Homo sapiens: one gene and its partners. The protein of the gene in region 2 interacts with the protein of the main gene of each other region in a pairwise test. Each region holds a gene or a part of one and is shown on either strand. Other genes may lie near its edges.

What was found. Proteins that work in one complex are often made in the same cells at the same time.
Region 1: the proteins of TAP1 (region 2) and ERGIC3 interact in binary tests that used the Homo sapiens proteins (3 or more experiments, as listed by UniProt).
Region 3: the proteins of TAP1 (region 2) and SLC10A6 interact in binary tests that used the Homo sapiens proteins (3 or more experiments, as listed by UniProt).

What each region holds. Positions count from the first base shown.
Region 1 is NC_000020.11:35,537,895-35,545,077, forward strand, and holds the start of ERGIC3 (endoplasmic reticulum-Golgi intermediate compartment protein 3), read left to right. Parts: upstream 1-4,183; 5' UTR 4,184-4,203; coding exon 4,204-4,291; intron 4,292-4,428; coding exon 4,429-4,499; intron 4,500-4,618; coding exon 4,619-4,706; intron 4,707-4,927; coding exon 4,928-5,047; intron 5,048-6,488; exon of another isoform or gene 6,489-6,888; intron 6,889-7,183. UniProt on the Homo sapiens protein: Possible role in transport between endoplasmic reticulum and Golgi. Positively regulates trafficking of the secretory proteins SERPINA1/alpha1-antitrypsin and HP/haptoglobin.
Region 2 is NC_000006.12:32,850,684-32,858,466, forward strand, and holds the start of TAP1 (antigen peptide transporter 1), read right to left. Parts: upstream 3,022-7,783; 5' UTR 2,954-3,021; coding exon 2,356-2,953; intron 2,079-2,355; exon of another isoform or gene 1,912-2,078; intron 1,820-1,911; coding exon 1,705-1,819; intron 1,557-1,704; coding exon 1,426-1,556; intron 467-1,425; coding exon 261-466; intron 1-260. Other genes in the region: PSMB9 (proteasome subunit beta type-9 precursor), read left to right, coding at 3,547-3,606, 5,455-5,522, 6,580-6,711, 7,322-7,451, 7,681-7,783. UniProt on the Homo sapiens protein: ABC transporter associated with antigen processing. In complex with TAP2 mediates unidirectional translocation of peptide antigens from cytosol to endoplasmic reticulum (ER) for loading onto MHC class I (MHCI) molecules.
Region 3 is NC_000004.12:86,839,385-86,846,405, reverse strand, and holds part of SLC10A6 (sodium-dependent organic anion transporter), read left to right. Parts: intron 1-7,021. UniProt on the Homo sapiens protein: Transports sulfoconjugated steroid hormones from the extracellular compartment into the cytosol in a sodium-dependent manner without hydrolysis.

The DNA of each region.
Region 1 (7,183 bases), on a different chromosome or scaffold from region 2:
TGGCCAGGCTGGTCTTGAACTCTTGACCTCAGGTAATCTGGCCTCCTCGGCCTCCCCTAGTGTTGGGATTACAGGCGTGAGCCACCACCCCTGGCCTTTTTTTTAAAGTATTTTTGATACAGGGTCTCACTCTGTCACCCAGGCTGGAATGCAGTGGCATGGTCTCGGGTCACTGCAACCTCTGCCCCCCACCCCTGGGTTCAAGCGATTCTCCCACCTCAGCCTCCCGAATAGCTGGGATTAGAGGCACCCGCCACCACACCCAGCTAAGTTTTTGTATTTTTTGGTAGAGATGGGATTTTGCTATGTTGGCCAGGTTGGTCTGAAACTCCTGACCTCAAGTGATCCACCTGCCTTGGCCTCCCAAAGTGCTGAGATTACAGGCATGGGCCACCGCGCCTGGGCTTAGTGCAATATTTGAGGCACTCAGATTTTTTTTTTCCTGTGCTGCTGGTTTTGGTCCTATGTGGGCAATAAAACAAGGAACCTTTCAGGAAAGTACTTCTCACACTTTAATGTGCATGCTAATTATCTGGAGAGTCTTGTTAGAATGCAGATTCTGATTCTGCAGGTTTGGGGTGGGGACTGGGATTCTGCATTTCTAACAGGTTCCCAGATAAGGCCAATGTTTCTGGTTCAAGGATCCCACTTAGGGTAGCAGAGCTTTAGACTTAATTCCATCAGCAGATTCCTTATTACCTATTTCTGATAGAATTCTTGGTGCTCTCAGGAATCTGAAGCCCAGATAATAGAGGGAGATCCCAGGTGTCCTCTGCCACCCTGTTAGCTGAGGGAGACCCAAAAACTTTGGCTTCCGTGAAAAGTCCTCCTCCAGTTGTCCCCAAAGTTGTAGCATGAGTCCTTCCAAATCTTTTCTCATGATTATACAAATACATATTCCCCCATATAAGATTAAGATTTTTATATATAGATAGATTTTTTTTTTATTTAGGTTTTTTTTTTTGTTTTTTTTTTGAGACGGAGTGTGGCTCTGTCGCCCAGGCTGGAGTGCAGTGGGGCAATCTCGGCTCACTGCAAGCTCCACCTCCCAGGTTCACGCCATTCTCCTGCCTCAGCCTCCCGAGTAGCTGGGACTACAGGCGCCCGCTACTACGCCCGGCTAATTTTTTGTATTTTTAGTAGAGACAGGGTTTCACCATGTTAGCCAGGATGGTCTTGATCTCCTGACCTCGTGATCCGCCCGCCTCGGCCTCCCAAAGTGCTGGGATTACAGGCGTGAGCCACAGCGCCCGGCCTATGTTTTACATATATAACAATTTATATATAACTACATATATAATATATATAACAGTTTATATATATATATAACAGTTTATATATATAATATATATAACAGTTTATATATATATATATAACAGTTTATATATATAATATATATAACAGTTTATATATATAATATATATAACAGTTTATATATATAATATATAAGTTTATATATTATATATAACAGTTTATATATAACAGTTTATATATAATATATATAAGTTTATATATAACAGTTTATATATATAATATATATAAGTTTATATATAATATATATAAGTTTATATATATGTTTATATATAATATATATAACAGTTTATATATATAATATATATAACAGTTTATATATATAATATATATAACAGTTTATATATATAATATATATAACAGTTTATATATATAAAATATATAACAGTTTATATATATAATATATATAAGTTTATATATATAATATATATAACAGTTTATATATATTATATATATATATATGCACACACACAAAGAGAGAGAGAGAGACTCGCTCTGTCGCCCAGGCTGTAGTGCAGTGGTGTAATCACAGCTCACTATGAGGCAGGAGAACAGGGAATCAGGGTAACCGGGGGTTAAGACATAAGCAAATGAAGGGGTGCAGCCAGTTCTAGGCAGCATACAGGCCACATCTTCAATCCTATGATAACGAGACAGAAGTTTCCACTTCCGCCTCCGATTGACCGTGGGGCCAAATCTCCACTTCAGCCTCTGATTGGCTGTGGGCCAAGTCTCCACTTCAGCCTCTGATTTGGTCGCAGGCCAATCCTTCATAGGTGTAGCCAACTGGAGGCTTCTAAAGGGCACCTAGGGGTGTTGCCAGGTCCCTTTAGCTTAATACAAACCCTGATTGAGGAGGCTCTTGAGCAGCTTGCTCTAACCAGCTGCCGCTATGAATCGTCTTCAATAAATCTATGCTTTTGTTATTCCGTTCTTCTGTTGCTGTTTGTCTTTCGTTGCCCTTCTGTTACTTTATGTGTTTTGTTCAACACGCCAAGAACCTGGACAACTCTATGCTGGTAACAACTGCAGGTAACCTGGTAACAACTGCAGTTTCAAACTCTCCTGGGCTCAACCCCAGCCTCCCAGGTAGCTGAGACTATAGACGCATGCCACCACACCTGGCTAATTTTTTTATTTTTATTTTTATTTTTGGAGACAGAATCTCACTCTGTCGCCCAGGCTGGAATGCAATGGCATGATCTCGGCTCACTGCAACCTCCGCCTCCCAGGTTCAAGCGATTCTCCTGCCTCGGACTCACAAGTAGCTGGGTTTACAGGAGCACACTACCACGCCTGGCTAATTTTTGTATTTTTAGTAGAGATGGGGTTTCACCATGTTGACCAGGCTGGTCTCAAACTCCTGAACTCAAGTGATGCTTCCTGGCTCGGCCTCCTGAAGTGCTAGGGTTACAGATGTAGTTTTTAAAGTTTTTGTAGAGTGGGGTCTTGCTGTGTTGCCCAGGCTGGTCTTAGACTCCTGGCCTCATGTGATCCTCCTCGGTCTCCCAAAGTGCTGTGATTACAGGTGTGAGCCATTGTGCCCAGCCCAATTTTTAATTAAAAAATGGAATGATGGAATGCACATTACTTTGCATCTTTTCCCCCTTAAAAATACATTCTTAGTATACCTAAAGGAGTAAATCTACCTCATTCTTTTGAAAAGTGGCCTAATATTCCATAGAATGGGTGTATCGTGATTTATTCAATTTATTTAATGTATCAGTGGGCATTCTGGCTGGTTCCAGATTTTTGCCATTGAACAATCTCATGCATACATCTTTATGATGTGGTGCACTTAAAATCTTTAAGAGACAGATTCAATATCTTAAGGTGTAACAACCACCCAGATCATGGTACTTTTATCCTTATATTAAAATTTTTTTCTGTTAACCTTGGATAGCTGCTTACATATTTTTTCTTTTTCAAAATTTTTCTATTAACCTTGACATGGTGCTTTTACTTCCTAAAGTGGAATTCCTGTATGAAAGCCTATGAGCTTTTATATCTTACTCATTGCAGCTGCATTACTGTGGGAGCTGTCCCTCTAGAGACACTGGGCTGCAATGGGAAGTGTCAGGGAGAGCTTAAGCTCCATATCACTTGAGTCTAAACCTGGAGGGATAGAGCGTGTCCGTGAGGATCCCAGGGCCTGGAGAGCAATTTAGGGTAATATTCAGAAAGCAGCGCTCAGGAGAAGCACTGGGACGCTGTTTAGGTAAAATCAACCCAAAAGACCCTGATTCCCAGAGTACTTTGAGGTCCAGAAGAACTGGGCTGGAAGCAGGTCCTGCTATTAATTGGCTGTGATCTTGGGCAAGTTATTTAACTTCTCCAGGTCACAGTTTGCTCTTTGGAAAACGGAGATAAGTCACACCTGCTTTCAGGGCGGACACCCTTACTTTACATCAGAATCATCCGATGCCATTCCTAGCGTTTCGGCTTCAGTAGGTGGGAATCAATTATTTGCATTTCTAATAGGTAATCAGTTGATAATGATGCGGCCGGTCCGGTACACTCGAAAAACCACTGTTCCAGGATATTCCAAGATGTTCCAAGAGTCTTAAACACCTGGTGCAGTTCCGAGCACAAGGCACACGAACGGTGCTATTAGCGTTTCTAACCCCGCAGAGAACTCCTCGCACCCCAGTCCTCAAAATCCCGCCCCGGACAGCGGAGGCCGGGGCAGTAGCTTCCAGACCCAATTGCCCGCGCAAGGGGGCGTGGCAGCATCGTTGGGCGGGGCCGCCTGTAAGAGAACGCGGCTAAAGGTGGGGCCAAGCGTGCGGTTTGCTGCGCCTGCGTGAGGAAAAAGAGGGGGGCGTGGCTCCAGGCCGGAAGAGGGAGTCTGTAGGGGCGGGCCGGCTGGCGTCCCCTTTCCGGCCGGTCCCCATGGAGGCGCTGGGGAAGCTGAAGCAGTTCGATGCCTACCCCAAGACTTTGGAGGACTTCCGGGTCAAGACCTGCGGGGGCGCCACCGGTAGGCCGCAGCGGGGCCGGGGTCGCGTGGAGGGGGGCGTCCTAGAGCTTAGCCCGGGCTCCTGGACTCTGACTGGCCTGCCGGTGTCTGAGGGAGCGGATTCGAGGCCATTCTGACCCTCGCCCCTTGTCCTGCAGTGACCATTGTCAGTGGCCTTCTCATGCTGCTACTGTTCCTGTCCGAGCTGCAGTATTACCTCACCACGGAGGTAAGGGGCGGGGCTTAGTGCGTGGGCGGGGCTTGGCATTCTAGGAGTAGGACCTTTAGGGGTGGGAGTGGGGAAGGAGAGGTTTGGGGCTAAGTCTTACTGAGGTAGCGCTGCCCCAGGTGCATCCTGAGCTCTACGTGGACAAGTCGCGGGGAGATAAACTGAAGATCAACATCGATGTACTTTTTCCGCACATGCCTTGTGCCTGTGAGTACCTCACCATGGGTGGGACTGGAGAGACCCAGGGTTCTCATGTGGGCTGCCAGATTCACACCTCCACCCTTAGGTTCTGGACTGGACCCCAGGACAACCTCCTTCTCCTCATCCCGTTCTGCCCCAAGACAGGCCCAGTATCCCCTTCCCCTCCAAAACCCACATCCCCTTGTCCCTAGGGTCCCAGTACCTTAGCCTGATTTTCCTGCTTCCAGATCTGAGTATTGATGCCATGGATGTGGCCGGAGAACAGCAGCTGGATGTGGAACACAACCTGTTCAAGCAACGACTAGATAAAGATGGCATCCCCGTGAGCTCAGAGGCTGAGCGGCATGGTAACCAGGGGAGGGGGCCGGGTCTCAGATCCCAAAGCTGGATGTACCCAAGCCTATCTGCTAGCAAGTGAACTGTGGCAGGCATAGTGATACATTAAACAACTAAGAGCTAGAGAAGTCAAGTGACTTGCCTAGGGTCCCCCAGCTAGTAAGAGTCAGAGTGAGCTAAAATCCTCTATACATATCGAGTCAGGTAATCTACCTGGCTATTATTCTCAGAGGTCCTCAATACCTGCAGATGGTAGTTTGAATACCAGAGGTTTGAAGATAGGTCTTATGTGCTCTTGCCTTGGTAGAACTGTCTAGATGGACCCAGGCTTCTTTGAGTGTTTGCTTTCCCAGCCCATTGGCTTAATTCAGCCCTTAATGCTCTTCCCCTTTGGAATGCAGGTGGTTTAATGAGAATTTAGGTTCTCAAGTCAGATTGCCTGGGTTCACATCTAGCTTTGTCTCCTGCAGTCTGTGAGCTTCAGCTAGAAAGTGGTAATAAAACAGTAGTACCAACCACATGGAATTGTAAGATCAAATGAAGTCATATGTGTAAAATGCCTGGTACAGAGTGGGTACCCACTTTTACCTTCCTTTCCTTTATCTTGGTGGCTTCCCAATTCCCTTCGTTAACTCAGTTTCCCACCACAGCAAACTGTCCTCAAAGCTGGGATTTCTAACACCTTAGAGATTACTCTGGTGGGGAGTTTTATCATTCGTTGTTTCAGCAGATTAATGCAGGACACCAGTGGAACCAACATAATTTGCTATAGGACTGGATGTGGAGTGGAGGAGAGCAAAGTCATGGTTGTTGATTCCAACGCTTTCAGCCTGAGCAAATGAATGACTTGAGATGGAGATGACTGGAGGAGAAGGTTTTTTTGGTGGGAGGGAGGAGTGGCTATTGGATATCCACTGCTGTGTAACAAAGTACTCCAAAAGTTAGTAGTTTGATACAATAAAAATGTGTTTTTTCAGTTTCCCTGGGTCAGGAATTTAGGAGTGGCTTGTTTGGGTGATTCGGGATTAGGGTATCTCACGAGGTTGCAGTCATCTAAGGATTGATGGGGCACTGAAGAATCTACTATCTATCTATCTATCTATCTATCTATCTATCTATCTATCTATCTATCTGTCTATCTTGAGACAGAGTCTCACTTTGTCGCCCAGGCTGGAGTGCAGTGGCGCGATCTTGGCTCACTGCAACCTCCGCCTCCCAGGTTCAAGTGATTCTCCTGCCTCAACCTCCCGAGTAGCTGGGATTACAGGCCTGTGCCACCATGCCCAGCTAATTTTTTGTATTTTTAGTAGAGACGGGGTTGCACCTTGTTGGGCCAGATGGTCTTGATCTCTTGACCTTGTGATCCACCCGCCTCAGCCTTCCAAAGTGCTGGGATTACAGGCATGAGCCACTGCGCCTGGCCTACTTATTTGTTGTTTAAATTTATTTTTTTTCTGTCAAGGTGTTCTTTATTTCAGAGAGAGGGCAGGACAGGGGGCTCAGTCTTTCTTGGCATCAGCTTTCCTCATGATGGCTGGGACATTGCTCAGCTCCTCCTGCCTCCTCTTAGTGCGGATGTGCGTCCCCACTCTTTTCTTGATGAACTTGAGGGCCCGTTTGTCCTTGGAGACCTTGAGTAACACCATGGCGTGCCGCTCATACGGGGCGAAACCACACACCTCTCGGATCATGTCCCACATGAATTTGGTGTTTGGTCAGGCGCCCGCGGCGGCAGCTGTGCCTGGGCTTGCTCATGTTCTTGGTCATCTTGTGGCCCTTGTCAAGGCACACGGCCATAGTGGGTAGCACAGAGCCATGGCTGCTGCTCTCCAATGGCAGCTGTGGCAGAAGGGCTGGTGCCACGCGGGGATCTACTTTTTTTTTTTTTTTTTTTTTGAGTCACGCTCTGTCACCCAGGCTGGAGTGCAATGGTGCGATTTCAGCTCACTGCAACCTCTGCCTCCCGGCTTCAAGTGATTCACCTGCCTCAGCCTTCTGAGTAGCTGGGGTTACAGGCGCCTGCCCCCACACCCGGCTACTTTTTGTATTTTTGGTAGAGACAGGGTTTCACCATCGTGGCCAGGCTGGTCTCAAACTCCTGACCTCAGGTGATCCACCCGCCTTGGCCTCCCAAAGTGTTGGGATTA
Region 2 (7,783 bases):
GGAAAATGACTCAGAACGGGTTGGGGATCAAATTCTTAAAGACAGATTGTGGGGAGAAGCTAGAAAAGAAGACCCAGAGAGTATGGAGGTTAATGTTGAGCAACCTGGGAACATGGACCACAGGGACAGGGTGTTCCATGAAGATGGAGAATCAGTAAGGGTGCCAGGAAAGCTGGACTGAAAGCAATGTGAGAGGAACTGAGTCTGCCAAGTCTGGGAGATGAGGGTCTGTGTAGAGCGGGCCAACTCCATGAACATACCTGGTACCATTTTCCCACCTTCTTGGGCAGAAGGAAAAGCAGAGGCAGGGTGATCAGGGTGACCATGGTGAGGGACACTGATCCCCAGAGCATGATCCCCAAGAGACATAGGCCTCGCACCAGGTACCACAGAAATAAGCTCAGATTCTCACTCAGAGAATCACTCAGGGTGGACGTGTCCTCTGTTACCCGAGACATGATGTTACCTGCAGGGTTGGGGAGAAGAGAGTGAGGTGAATCAGACAGGTTCCAAGTGATGAGACGAACTAACAATGAGCCAGGATGCCAGGGTCAGGGGTGTCAACATGGGGTTCTAAGGAGGCTGCAGGAAACAAGGTTAGGGTTCTCCAGAGGTCTGCAAATCTCAGTGCAGGGAAGATGAGTGTTAAAGAGGAAAGGCCTGACCTTCATTTTAATTATAAAGTCATTAATGCACATGTGAATTTCCATTTTCCTGAAAGCTTTCTGTTCCCTAGAGAACCTGTATGTCCCATGCTATACACACAGGCAGGAAGAGCTTAAACTGGTCACATAACAGAGATGGAGGAGGAGGGTGCTGCTAGGAAGCATGCCAAAGTCTGTGGAGCACTCACTGGGACTAGGGTTCTAACCCCAGGTCTATCTCTAGCCATATGTAACTGTACAGCTTCTAGTGCTGCTAGAAAGCATGCCGAAGTCTGTGGAGCACTCAAGAGACCAGGGTTCTAACCCCAAGTGTGTCTCTAGCCATATGTAACTGTGCAGTTTCAGCATTTAGGGTCTTGGCCTCAGTTTCCTTCTCTGTCAGATGAGGCAGTTGGTCTCTATGAGCTCAAAATTTCCAGGTTTGAAATTCTATGGTTTCTATCTAAGGATACATAGGAATAGATTTATAAGAAAATGCTAGATGAAAACTCTAGGTTTTTCTTAAGGTAAGGAGGACAATATTTTGCTCCTGAGGTATATCAAGAATGAGAAAAACAATTGTGTGTGTGTGTGTGTGAGAGAGAGAGAGAGAGAGACAGAGACAGAGAGAGAGAGACAGGGAGAGGGTATATCAAGAATGAGAAGGAACAATGTGTGTATGTGTGTGTGAGAGAGAGAGAGCGGGGAGGGGGGAGATCAAAGCAGATGTATGAGGATATGAACAGTACATGGCGTATAATGAAAGAGTTTCAGGAGAAACCTGTCTGGTTCTGTTGGAAAAACTCCGTCTCCTGGCGCAGGACAGCCCCAAACACCTCTCCCTGCAAGTGGCTGTGCACGTGGCCCATGGTGTTGTTATAGATCCCGTCACCCACGAACTCCAGCACTGCACTATAAAGAACCCGGAAAAAAAGGGGATCAGGGTGTGTTCAGGGAACAGACTGAAGGTCCCAGGTATCCCCATATAAGTGCATTTCGGACAGCAGCCCCAACTTCCAACTCCCTCATTTGCAGGGTGCCCCATTTTCAGCCCCCAGACCTGGCTATGGTGAGAATGGACATGAGAGTTAAGTTTCGAGTGAAGGTATCGGCTGAGCCATCTTGTAGAATCCAGTCAGTGAGGCGGCCCGTAAAGAATGGAATGGCCATCTCCCCTGGAGAAAGAGAAGAGAGGTCACGCACAAATATTAAGTCTAAGTAGGTCAGTTCCAGTCAGACTGGCCCCACCACGCCTCCTCCCCCTCACCATTATCCTGGAGGGCATCAGCAGAAAGGAAACACTGACGTCTCAATCCCGAACCTAAATAGGCTGCCCTGGAACTCACTACCCTGTGGTTGCTCTACCAGAACTTTCAGGATTTTATTAGGAAGGCTGGAGATCATGAAGTAGAAAAGCCTCCTGTTAGAGATGAGGATGCCCCGCCCTTCGGCCCCAGAGCAAAGGATTTCCCCGCTTCCGGCGTGGCCCAAAGAATCAAGACCCGGTCAGCAATGGAGCCCAGAACCTCTGGCCCCCGCCAGTCCAGTGCCGTTTCTTCTACACCGAAGTGGTGTTCCAAGACCCACGCTAGGAGTCCTTCTCCTGCTCCACATTTCCCAGAACCCACGCTACTCTACCTTACTGACAATTACCTTTGATTCCTGTCCCAGTCCCCTTGTGTCCTCCCCTCTTGCCCTGCGTTCCCCTTACCAAGAGAGGAGAGGACCACCAGGACCAGGAACAGCGAGAGGCGGCGCGTCTCCGAGCCCAGGCAGCCTAGAAGCCGACGCACAGGGTTTCCAGAGCCGCCCTGACCGCCGGGCACCCAGAGGCTCCCGAGTTTGTGCCACAGGGCTGCTGCGGGCAGTGCCGCTGCATAACTGACAACGAAGGCGGTAGGGTGACTTCCCCAGTGCAGTAGCCTGGTGCTATCCGCGGACCCGGGGGCTCCCCATGAGATCAGCTCTCGGAACAAGGCAAGTCCCGGCAGGGCCAAGCCCAGTGCCGCAGCTAATGGCTTCAAAGCAGCCAGCCAGCCCTGGGCACCTGCGTTTTCGCTCTTGGAGCCAACCGTTGCCCTGAGGACCCCGCAGGCCCCCAGCCAGAGCACGGCCCAGCGGCTCAGGCCCACCGCCCAGACCCGGAGCAGTGGCAGCGCGGTGGGCACCAGCAGGGAGAATATGCGGGGCAGCGCGGTCCGGAGCAGCACCCAGTCGGCGAGAAGTAGCAGTACTGTCCCCAGCCATGCGAGAGAAGCTCCGGGGAGGCAGCGGCACCCGCGGGGAGCGGGACACCTAGAGCTAGCCATTGGCACTCGGACGCCGTCCCGGTCCCGGCCGGGCCTGGGACTCTCCGCGCCCCGGTGGGGCCTGAAGCTCCGGGTACCGCCGAGTCCTCCCCTACTGGCGGCTGGGGGAGGGAACGAGGGCGGGGCTCTCGGAAAGTCCCAGGAACAGGCTGATCCTGCGCTGGCGAGAAGCTCAGCCATTTAGGGGAAAGCGAAATCGAAAGCGGCCGCCTGCTCACTAGATAACGCCTACTTCCAAAAGTGGCCTGCCCAGACTATTTTGGTAGCAAGCGTGGAAATCAGATCTGAGAATCTCGGGAGCAGCCCTGGTGCCCAATTTTCTCCATCACGCACACCCTTCTCGCCTCTCCCTGCCTCCTGCCTTTCCACTTGCACCAGTTTTCCCACCCCAGCCTCAGGGCGGGGCTGCCTCGTCACTTGTCTCGGGGCAGATCTGCCCTACACACGTTAGCGCCGCGCGCAAAGCAGCCCCGCAGCACCCAGGCGCCTCCTGGCGGCGCCGCGAAGGGGCGGGGCTGTCGGCTGCGCGTTGTGCGCTGTCCCAGGTTGGAAACCAGTGCCCCAGGCGGCGAGGAGAGCGGTGCCTTGCAGGGATGCTGCGGGCGGGAGCACCAACCGGGGACTTACCCCGGGCGGGAGAAGTCCACACCGGGGTAATGGGTCTGGGCTTGAGGGTTGGCAGAGGGGTGGAGGAGATGCAGCGGCCAGGGGACCCTGGAAGCGCGCGCGGAGAAGTGAATGCAGAGACCAACGGGAGCGCAGGGAGGTCGCCTGTAGCAGCCAGCGCTTGCAACCCGCAATGAGCATAGAGTATTTCTTTTCTGAGGGGGGTCGTCTAGAGTGTCCGTGAAGGGAACAGGCACGCGAGGCTGGTGGAAAAAGCGGGTGCTTTGACTCTTAGCTGGAAGCGTCAACGGGAAGCTACTCTAAAGCGCTTTCGCTTTCACTCTGGTCCCGGACAGTGGGGGCTGGTTAAATCAAGAAAGGGGGTTGGGGATGGTGCAAAGAGATGAGGAAATGGTGCCCTGGGTGAAGTAGAACAGCACTTGGGAGAAGGAAATATAGGCACTTATTGAGAAGGACCAACTCATCACACAGACTTTTGATAAACTTGCCACTGGGCAACTCTTAGCCCAAGCACTGATAATGGGCGTTCTGTGTTAACTAGTGATGCCCTTCCCTAGCTTGACCCAGGAAGGCCTCTCCTTGGCCCAGATGCTGCCTTACTCCCTTCCCTGTGTCTTCCCTGCCCACTCCCATGTGCCCACTGGGGGGACTTTGCTTAGGATGGGCGCCTGGGGCAGATGGCAGCCCCAAGACTGGCTGGCTGGCTTCTGCTCTGGACTACTGCCACCACTCGTGGCTTGGGGGCGGCTTTGTTAGAGAGGAATAGCCTCTAACTTGAAGTTAACCCTGTTCTTTGACCCTCTATTCATGATAAGTCGGTCCGTCGGAAAGCATACTCAGAGGAGCGTCCTTTGGGGCCAGAGTAACTTACGGCCTGGTAAGAAAGACACAGTGAAACCACTTATAATTTGGGAAATCTCCCCTCACTGCCAAATGAGCAGTGGCAAGTAGGAAGTAGAAGTGGAAACAAGGGATAAGAGTTAGACCTGAATTTTAGTCCCAGGTCTACTATTAACTCTGTGTGACTTTGCATAAGTCGTTTGCATTTTCTGTGACTTGGTTTCCTCATTTGAACCGAGGATCTTTAAGGCTCCTTCCAACTCAATAGTAGAATAAATGTAGCTTTATCTTCCCTCACTTCTTCTTGATTCTTTTCTTGACCTGGAAAAGTCAGCTTAAACTTCTCAGTCAAATTATCTCTTGGTACAAATTTACCTCCCTGGCTGCTGAGATATGTATTTACCTCTTGATCGGAAATTCCATAACTGAAACTTTTATTTTCAACCATCTGTATGTGTTCCTTGCTGCTTCTCTCCTGCCTTGCCCCTGGCCATGCTAACCACTGCCCTCCTCGATTTTTTCCAATGTTCAGTAAATTGGAAGAGCTCACTTCTGATGAAATGGGGGGTGAGAGTGGAGGATTGTGGACCAAAAAAAAAAAAATAGACTGACCTTGTTTCCCAAGATCATAGTCAATTACTCTGTGTTGGGTCTACACCACATCTGCACATACTATGAGCCCTTCCGTTGGAGATAATTTTCACTTGCGGAGCTGCTTCACTTCTACCTGTAGGAGCCTCATCTCCACCTCTCTACAGTGGAGAGGATTCCACTAGGCAAGTTGGAACTTAGGGACACAGTTCTTTCTGTGTTGTATCACAGCTGGGCTGTGGCATTCCCCTGCAGCCGGATGAAGCAATAGAGAAAGTGGAAAGATGAAGGGAAAAAAAGCCTGTACTGACAGTCAGCTCTGGCCTGTTACTGTGTAATCTTTGAGCCAGTCACTTCGCCTCTCTGGGAATGTTTCTTCTTCTCTAACATGAGGGCATCAAGGCTGTTCTTGCCCTGACATTCCATATTCTGTGTCTCTGCAGACCACCATCATGGCAGTGGAGTTTGACGGGGGCGTTGTGATGGGTTCTGATTCCCGAGTGTCTGCAGGGTGAGTAAAAGTGAAGATGTATGCATTTGGAAAGAAGCTAATGGCCTCAAATACACACTTTCCTTACCCATTCATGAAAAGACTGGCAAACTGGAGCCTTGGAGGAATGGAGTTGACCTTCCCCAAAAGCCACTATGATAAGCTATTTGGTGGGTGCTTGGGTCTCTGAATTTGTGGAGGAGGATCTGGGGTCTGAATGTGTATGTGACCTGTCCCAGTAGTGTACAGGGATGAGTAAAGGAATAGGGTCTGAGAGGGGGACAGGAGATAGATTTTTGAGGGTCTTCTTTCCATCTGTGCTTAGGGATCAAAAAGATGATTCTGTCAAGCAGATACCTGGTTTCTCATTTACCATATATTGAACTATTTTGTCTCTTCTCCCACTCCTAACCAATTTCCTCACATGCAAAATGAGTATATGGGGTTAGGTCAATATTACTGACATTATGTTCCATAGAACATAACTCTCTCAAGATTGTTAATAGCAAAGAAAATTGATGAGGCATATTTTTCTTACCTTAGCATTTTTTGCTTTGTTATAAAATCTAAGCCTGAAAAATAAGCCTAATTTTGATTAACATCTGCAGTGATTAATAATATCTGAGATGATTATTTGCCTCCTGCTTTAATCCAAGCATTAAACTTCATGCTATTCTCTTGTCAAAGAAATTTGAGAGACATTGAATGATCACCCTCAAAAATTCCTGAGTTCTGGTTGGGTGCAGTGGCTCACATCTATAATCTCAGCACTTTGGGATGCCGAGGTGGGCAGATATTTGAGGTCAGGAGTTTGAGACCAGCCTGGCCAACATGTTGGGACCTTGTCTCTACTGAAAATACAAACATTAGCTGGGCTTGGTGGTGGGTGCCTGTAATCCCAGCTATTCGGGAGGCTGAGGCAGGAGAATCACTTGAACCAGGGAGGCGAAGTTTGCAGTGAGCCCAAGATTGATCCACTGCACTCCAGCCTGGGTGACAGAGTGAGACTGTCTCAAAAAAAAAAAAAAAAAAAAAAACCTGAGTTTTAACTTGGTGACTGTTGACTCCCTCCTGACAGCGAGGCGGTGGTGAACCGAGTGTTTGACAAGCTGTCCCCGCTGCACGAGCGCATCTACTGTGCACTCTCTGGTTCAGCTGCTGATGCCCAAGCCGTGGCCGACATGGCCGCCTACCAGCTGGAGCTCCATGGGTATGAAGCTCTGGAGTTCTGACTCCCCACCCACTAGAGCTCCCCCAACCTGCATGAATCCCTGTACAGTGTGCTGTTCCAGGAGCTGGACACTGGGAAATGGAAAAGTCTTGTTTCGGCTCTTGCTGGCACTTGAATCTGTCAGTTTCTGCATCTGTAAAGTGGAGATAATATAGTACCTCATGAGACGGTTATTTTGAGAACCACATTCTATATGTGAACACAGTTTAAAAGCTGTAAATCACTATCCTGATATAAATAATCAGGAAGAAGGTGATATTGTGACCCACCATAATATCAGGCAGTTACCATACGAGAAATCAAGGTCGTTGGGACGGAAGTAACCTTATCTGCTTTTCCCCATAAGAGCAGGGTCCTTGCAGCCAAAAGAAAGTTATGTGGGTGGGGCTGAGCAAAAGAGTGAGCAATTGAAAGCTTCTTACCAGTTGGTGGTGTGGGACTCTGGTTCCCCTGTACATGTGGGAGGGAGGCTGCAGTTTGAGCTATTGCAGTTACAGTTTTCAGGGGTCGTTTAGCAGGGATGATGGTAACAGTATAGGAGAATGAGACTTAAAATTCTATCAACCTTTATTCCTAATATTTCCCTCAGGATAGAACTGGAGGAACCTCCACTTGTTTTGGCTGCTGCAAATGTGGTGAGAAATATCAGCTATAAATATCGAGAGGACTTGTCTGCACATCTCATGGTAGCTGGCTGGGACCAACGTGAAGGAGGTCAGGTGAGTTTCTCCCAAAGCACTCTCTCCTCTGGGCTTCCCCACTCTCCTGCAGAGGAAGATGGAAGTCCTATGTCATTCTAGCAATGAGTTCCAAGGACACTACCTCTGAAAGCATAGTACTTTGGGGATATGAGATACCAGGGCTTCATTGCAGGGTGCAGAGACCACTTAATGTCTCAGTGGGAAGGAAGGGCTTGATGATTCTTTAACCTGAGGATCCCTTTCCCAGGTATATGGAACCCTGGGAGGAATGCTGACTCGACAGCCTTTTGCCATTGGTGGCTCCGGCAGCACCTTTATCTATGGTTATGTGGATGCAGCATATAAGCCAG
Region 3 (7,021 bases), on a different chromosome or scaffold from region 2:
ATTTGTGTGTGTGTGTGTATTCAGAGTGCCAGGTACATAGTAGTTGTGCAATAAATATTAGCTACTTTTCCTCTTTTCTTTCTAAATTTTGATTTTGAGTCTTACCAACAAAACTAAAAAAACAAGCAAAAACTAAATATTAGATTTTTAGAAGCTTATAGGTACAAAAGTAATAAAATCAATTTTCAGTAGAAACTCAAATAGGTGAAAATCAAGTACGGTGTGAAACAATATCTAAGTAATTACATTTCTTCATAATTGAATACCAACAAAAAATCAGTTTTAAGCAAAACTCAGTGGATCGTCATTGATAGGAGTTTTATCTGCTGTTAATGCTGGATAAAATCCAAGAGCGGTTAGCACAACATCTTCATTTGACACACGAGGAAGTGGAGATTTAGCTCCCTGCAGATGACCTTGAGCACGTTTCTCATGCCTTCACTCCTGCTTCATGCAGTGCACTTGCAGTTCTCCATGTGTTCACCCCACACAGGCATTTCAGAATCCATTGGTTGGAACCGGTTTGTGCGTTCTGCAAATGAGATGACTGATGACACCCATCCTCTTGCAGTTGCCTGGGCTTGTCATCTTAGCCTTGCCCTGTGACTACCCTCATTCTCGCCATGGCCACTCAATCCACTGCCAAGCCCTGTAGCCCTTCCTCTTGCTGTGTTGCTCACAGTTCTTGCTTCCTGTTGGTCTCCACTAACACTTCCTCAGGTCAGGCCCTCACAATTTCTTTCTTGGCTAATTGTATTTTCACAACAATGAAAGTGCTGTTCTCTGCACCTTTAGTCTCTCCATTACGGCTTTGCAGTAAGTGGATAAGGCAGGCTCTGATACCAGATTGCCTATATTCAAATCCTGACCTTGGGCCTCTTCTCTGTAACTGGAAATCATAACATTACCCGCATGGTACTGTTAGGAGAAAACGAACATGTTATACATACAAAGGCTTCTCAACACCTACTAAATTGGTAGAAACGACTAAGCCAGTCTACTTTACTTCTCCAGGTTCTTTTATTCCACTAGTCCCCTTAAGAACAATGGTTTTTAGTCAAAATGGGCTGCTCATAGTTCTCTGAGCATATCTCACACTCTTCCAGCTTTCTTTTGCCCATGTTGTTCCCACAGTCTGCAGTGCCAACTGACCTTATTTTGTCTCCTCCAGTCATGATGTTGTTCTTCCTTATAACCATCCTAGAAAGCAGTTGGCTGATATGTATGAAGAGCCTTAAAAATTATCCTGCCTCTGGGCCGAGTTTGGCTGATCATGGCTGGGTTCTTTTACATATTTTGGGGTTGGTTAAATGTAGACTGGTCTTGGGTGGTGATATGGTTTGGCTCTGTGTCCCCACCCAATTCTCATCTCGAATTGTAATTCCCGTGTGTCTAGGGAGGGGCCTGGAATCCCCAAGTGTCAAGGGAGGGAAGTGATCAGGTCATGGGGTTGATTTCCCCCATGCTGTTCTAATGATAGTGAGTGATGGTTTTATAAGTGTTTGGAAGTTCCTCCTTTGTTCTTCTTCTCTCTCTTGCTGCCTTGTGAAGAAGGTCCTTGCTTCCCCTTCACCTTCTGCCATGTTTGTAAGTTTCCTGAGACCTCCCCAACCATGTGGAACTGTGAGTCAATCAAATCCCTTTCCTTTATAAATTACGCAGGCTTGGGTATTTCTTTACAGCAGTGTGAAAATGGACTAATGCAGGTGGCTTCAACCTGGACAACTGGGCTCTCTTACTACATGATCTCTCATTTTCTAGTAGACTAGCCTAGACCTGATTACATGGCAGCAGCAGGGTTCTCAGAAAGGCAAAGCAGAAAAGGTCTTTTGAAGTGTTGGCTTTAAACCAGATCCTCTTCCTTCCACCACATTCCATTGGCCAATGCAGACTGCAAGGCCAGTCCAGCTTCATGGATTAGGAAAGTCGATTTTGCCTCTTGATGGGCTGAACTTCCAAGTCACATTACAGCGGACATGGATAAGGGAGGGGTGAAGAATAGGGGGCATTTTTTTCCCCAATATATCCTACTAGAGATGGACAGAATTCCTACCTTTGAGGGTAGAACATGAAAATTAAGATCTGGCAGTACGGTGTAGTAGTTAAGGGCTCTGGAAACAGCAAGCAGACCCATCACTTACTGACTGGATCATCTCGGCAGATTATGCACATTTTCTATGCTTCAGTTTCCTTACTTCTATTTTTTAATTTTTATTTTGATTTTTTTTGAGACGGAGTCTCGCTCTGTCACCCAGGCTGGAGTGCAGTGGCGTGATCTCGGCTCACTGCAAGCTCTGCCTCCCAGGTTCACACCATTCTCCTGCCTCAGCCTCCCGAGTAGCTGGGACTACAGGCGCCTGCCACCACACCTGGCTGATTTTTTGTATTTTTAGTAGAGATGGGGTTTCGCCATGTTAGCCAGGATGGTCTTGATCTCCTGACCTCATGATCCGCCCACCTCAGCCTCCCAAAGTGCTGGGATTACCGGTGTGAGCCACCGAGCCCGGCCAGTTTCCTCACTTCTAAAATGAGAAGCATTCCTACATCGTGAGCTGTTGAGAGGATTGAATGAGTTAATATTTCTAAAGTGCTTAGAATCTCACTTGGCATAAAATGTGATATGAACTATTATTATTATTATATAAGGCAGGCAAAAGAACATCGTGTCCTGGGTCTGTGTTTTAGTCCCTGCTCAAGGAGCTGCATGCCTAACCCTAACCCTGTATATAATGATATATCATAATATATATGTGTCATGTTTTATCTATTCATCCATCAACGGACAATTGAATTATTTCCACTTTTTGGCAATTGTGAATAATACTGTTGAGTCTCAGCTTTCATTTCCCTTGAGTGTATGCTTAGGAGTGGATCTGAGGTTAAATATTAAGTATTTTGTGACTATAGGAAAAGCAAAGCAAAATATGAAGTCCAAATGTCCCCCTTCCTCTACCGTAGTTTCTCCTGAAACTACTGCCCAGAAATGTTTCTCTTGTCTGTCCCCATAATCCGAATTATGTAACTCTTCCTTATCATCTGTTGGAAAGCATTGCAATAGCTGGGCTACTTGTCTGCCTCACCTACTATATCTGTAAGCTCCTGGAAGGCTTGCTCATCTTTGCTTGCACAGTACCAGCCAGGTAGTGGTAGGCACTCGGTAAACATGAGTGAATGAGTGAATGACAGTTTCCGATTGCCTGTGTGTATTACAAAAACAACCCTCAAAAGAGGTCCAGGCCAGGCGTGGTGGCTCACACCTGTAATCCCAGCACTTTGGGAGGCTGAGATGGGCAGATCACTTGAGGTCAGGAGTTCGAGACCAGCCTGGCCAACATGGCAAAACCCCATCTCTACTAAAAATACAAAATTAGCCAGGTGTGGTGATGCATGCCTGTAATGCCAGCTACTCAGGAGACTGAGGCAGGAGAAATGCTTGGACCCAGGAGGCAGAGGTTGCTGTGAGCCGAGATCACACCACTGCACTCCAGCCTGGGCAAGTGACAGAGCGAGACTCCATCTCAAAAAAAAAAAGAAAGAAAGAAAGAAAGAAAGAAAGAAAGAAAGAAAGAAAGAAAGAAAGAAAGAAAGAAAGAAAGAAAGAAAGAAAGAAAGAAAGAAAAGAGGTGTCCATTTATTGATGCAACTCAGGACAGCTCCCACTGTCTTGTCTTTTCTTTTCTTTTCTTTTCTTTTCTTTTTTTTTTTTTTGAGACAGGGTCTTAGACTCTGTCATCAGACTGGAGTGCAGTGGTACAATCATGGCTCACTGAAGTCTTGGCCTTCTGGGGTCAAGTGATCCTCTCACCTCAGCCTTCTGAGCAGCGCAGCTGGGACTATAGGCATGCGCCATCATACCCAGCTAATTTTTTATTTTTTATTACAGAGATGAGGTCTCACTATGTTGCCCAGGCTGGTCTTGAACTCCTGGGCTCAAGCAATCCTCCCACCTAGGGTTTCCAAAGTGCTGGGATTACAGGTGTGGGCCACTTACGCCTGGCCTCCCACTATCTTTGTTTGAGAACTTTTGATATATACAAGAGGTCCATTCTTCCGTAAGGATGTATTTATGTCCTCAGCTGCAGACAAAGGATTCTGACCACTGGTGGTGTTGGAGCCTGTGGAGCTCAGTGGCCAACTTTGACCTTTGAACTTTAAAGAAGTTCTTAGTCCTTCAGTAGAGAACCTGGAAATAGAACTTCAAATTGTTCAGGTCTATCTGACATGTCTTGGTGGAAAACTGAAGGTCCTTTGCATTTAAGGCTTTGGAGACAGAACGGAGACTGAATTCATGAGACTTCATGCAAGCTTCCATGTCTCTATGTACTTTAATTTCCTTATCTATACAATGAAAATAATACTCACACATAGAGTTATTATGTAGATGAAAAGAGAAAATGTATATAAAAGCATGAGACATAACACCTAGCACATAGTGCTCAATAAATACTCATTATTATTGGAAGGCAGCAGACAAGGGTAACATTTATATTGAGGGATGGAAAATCGGGCCTTACGCTCTATTCTAGGGTCAAATCTGTTGGTATGATCTTATAGCTCACTCCGTGTCCATCTGGTTAGCTGGATAATTTTTTATTTCTTTCAGTCGGAAAGCAAGTGTATACTTTCATAGTTTTGAGGGTCAGAGTTCCTGATTTTATGGGATTTTTGAAATTAAAACAATTTATAATAACTTAATCTCCAATTGCAAAATGTTATTGACACTGCATTTTAATGTAATGTGTATATATGTAATTTCCCTGCTTTAAGGGAGGGTTCAAGACTGACCTGTTTGTCTAGACTTGCTGAATATGTCTCATTATTTTCTGTAATAGTTTGGAGATGATGATGCTATTCTTCTCAATGCAAGTGGAATCTTGTTATACTGAAGTTAGATTTTGCCAAAAATTTTCCTATACATGAAAAGTCAAGAGACTTACTTAGCCACATCCTCTGTTTATGCTACATTGGAATTTCATGGCTAAAAATACAAGGCGTGACTTTCCACTGTACTCACAGGCATTCACTGTGTGCTTTTCCACCTTTGCTGGTATTTGTAACAGTTGGCAGAGCACCAGGATAACCTCTTGCCATCCTTGACCAATATCATGATCACCATGGGCTTGAAAATTGTATAAACATGGAAGCAATCACATAGGTAATCAAGGATATAGAATCAGTCGGATATAAATCTCACTTTGCTTCCCATAATCATGAGTCTTACCTTTCTGCTGTTTGAGCCAAAGCCATTCAGTAGAGAAATGTTGTGCTGGTTCTCCAGAAGTTCAAGAGTAAAGTGATATAATATGGAATTCCATTCAGGACTTAGTAATATGGAGAGTCAAGGAATGTAGCACTATCATAGACTAAGAATTTGGAAAAAACTTTCTAAACAGCCTCTTTGTGGATACAGAGGTTTGAGAGCTGTGGCAAACTGCTTTTTTTCTTTTAAATTGCCTACTAGTCAGGAAGAAATCTTTGCTTAAAGTAAGCATTCTTAATAGGATAAAATAATTTTGGGTTTCATATGGAATAAAATATAAGCAAGAACTGCTAAGACAAGTTTGAAAAGGGAAATTTATGTGGAGGTATTTGCCCTACCATATATGAGAACACTGTAATTAGTCTAGTATTTGTTCAGGAAAAAAGAAAGTTATTTATCAATGAGCTAGAAGAGAATTTCCAGAAAATATTTTGTGTACACTTGGGCATTTAATAAATGATAAAGGTGACACTTCAGTATAGTGGAAAATGGTTTATTTTAGTAGATTATATTGACACACTTGCATCTCAATATATTAATAGAAAAAATGGATTAGTCTCATACCTGTTACCATGCAAAATATAAATTTTAAGTCAGTTGAAAATATAAGCATAAAAGTAAAAAGTAGAAGACAATATTTGAATGCCCTCGGATCAGGGTAGGTCTTTAAGATAAGAAACTCAGAAGCCATTAAAAAAACAGCTCTGACTATATAAATGTTAATTATGGCAAGTCATAAGCAAAGTCAAAGATATACACCATGCTTGGAAAAAATACTTGTATTATTCATGGTAATATGAGCCCTAATTTTAAAAGAACTCCTACAAGTTGAGAAGAAGTCTGACAAGCAAGATTGTTTAGAGAGGAGGACACAGAAGAAGCCACTTGACATGAAAGAAAGCACAACCTGATAGAATCCAGAGTGTCGGCTGGGTGCAGTGGCTCACGCCTGTAATCCCAACACTTTGGGAGGCCAAGGTGGGTGGATCACCTGAGGTCCGGAGTTCGAGACCAGCTTGGCCAACATGGTAAAACCCATCTCTACTAAAAATTAAAAAAAAAAAAAAAATTAGCCTGGTGTGGTGGCGGGTACCTGTAATCCCACCTATTCCAGAGGCTGGGGCAGAGAGAATTGCTTGAACCTGGGAGGCGGAGCTTGCAGTGAGTCAAGATCAGGCCACTGCACTCCAGACTGGGTGACAGAGTGAGCTCCAGCTAAAAAAAAAAAATAAAAAAAAAAAATAAGAGTGTAACAAGAGTGAGATCAATTTTTCAATGCTGGCATGACAATTAGAAGGGACTGATCACATCCGGAGTAGGCAAGATTGTGAAATGTAGCAATCTTTTTGGAAAGTAGTCTGAAAGTATATATTAAAACAAAAAACACAGACTTTTACATAGCAATTCCACCTTGGGAATTCACAGAAAGAAAAGAATCATTTCAAGTGAAGTATGTATGAGAGTGTTTATTATAACATTATTTATAATGGCAAAAAACTAAAAGCAACTGACCTATGGTTAATGAAGTGATTGAAGAAATTATGGCATATTTAGATTATGGCATATTTCGCAGTTCTTTAAAAGAATAAGTTTAAATGTATTGGTCTGAGAGGATGTCTGTGATAGATGAAGTGGGAAAAAAAGCAAACAAGTTGCAGAGTAAGGTATATTATAAGGTTCCTTTTTTTATTTTTAGAGACAGGGCCTCCTTCTGTCCCCAAAGCTGGAGTGTTGTGGTGTGAGCATAGCTCACTGCAGCCT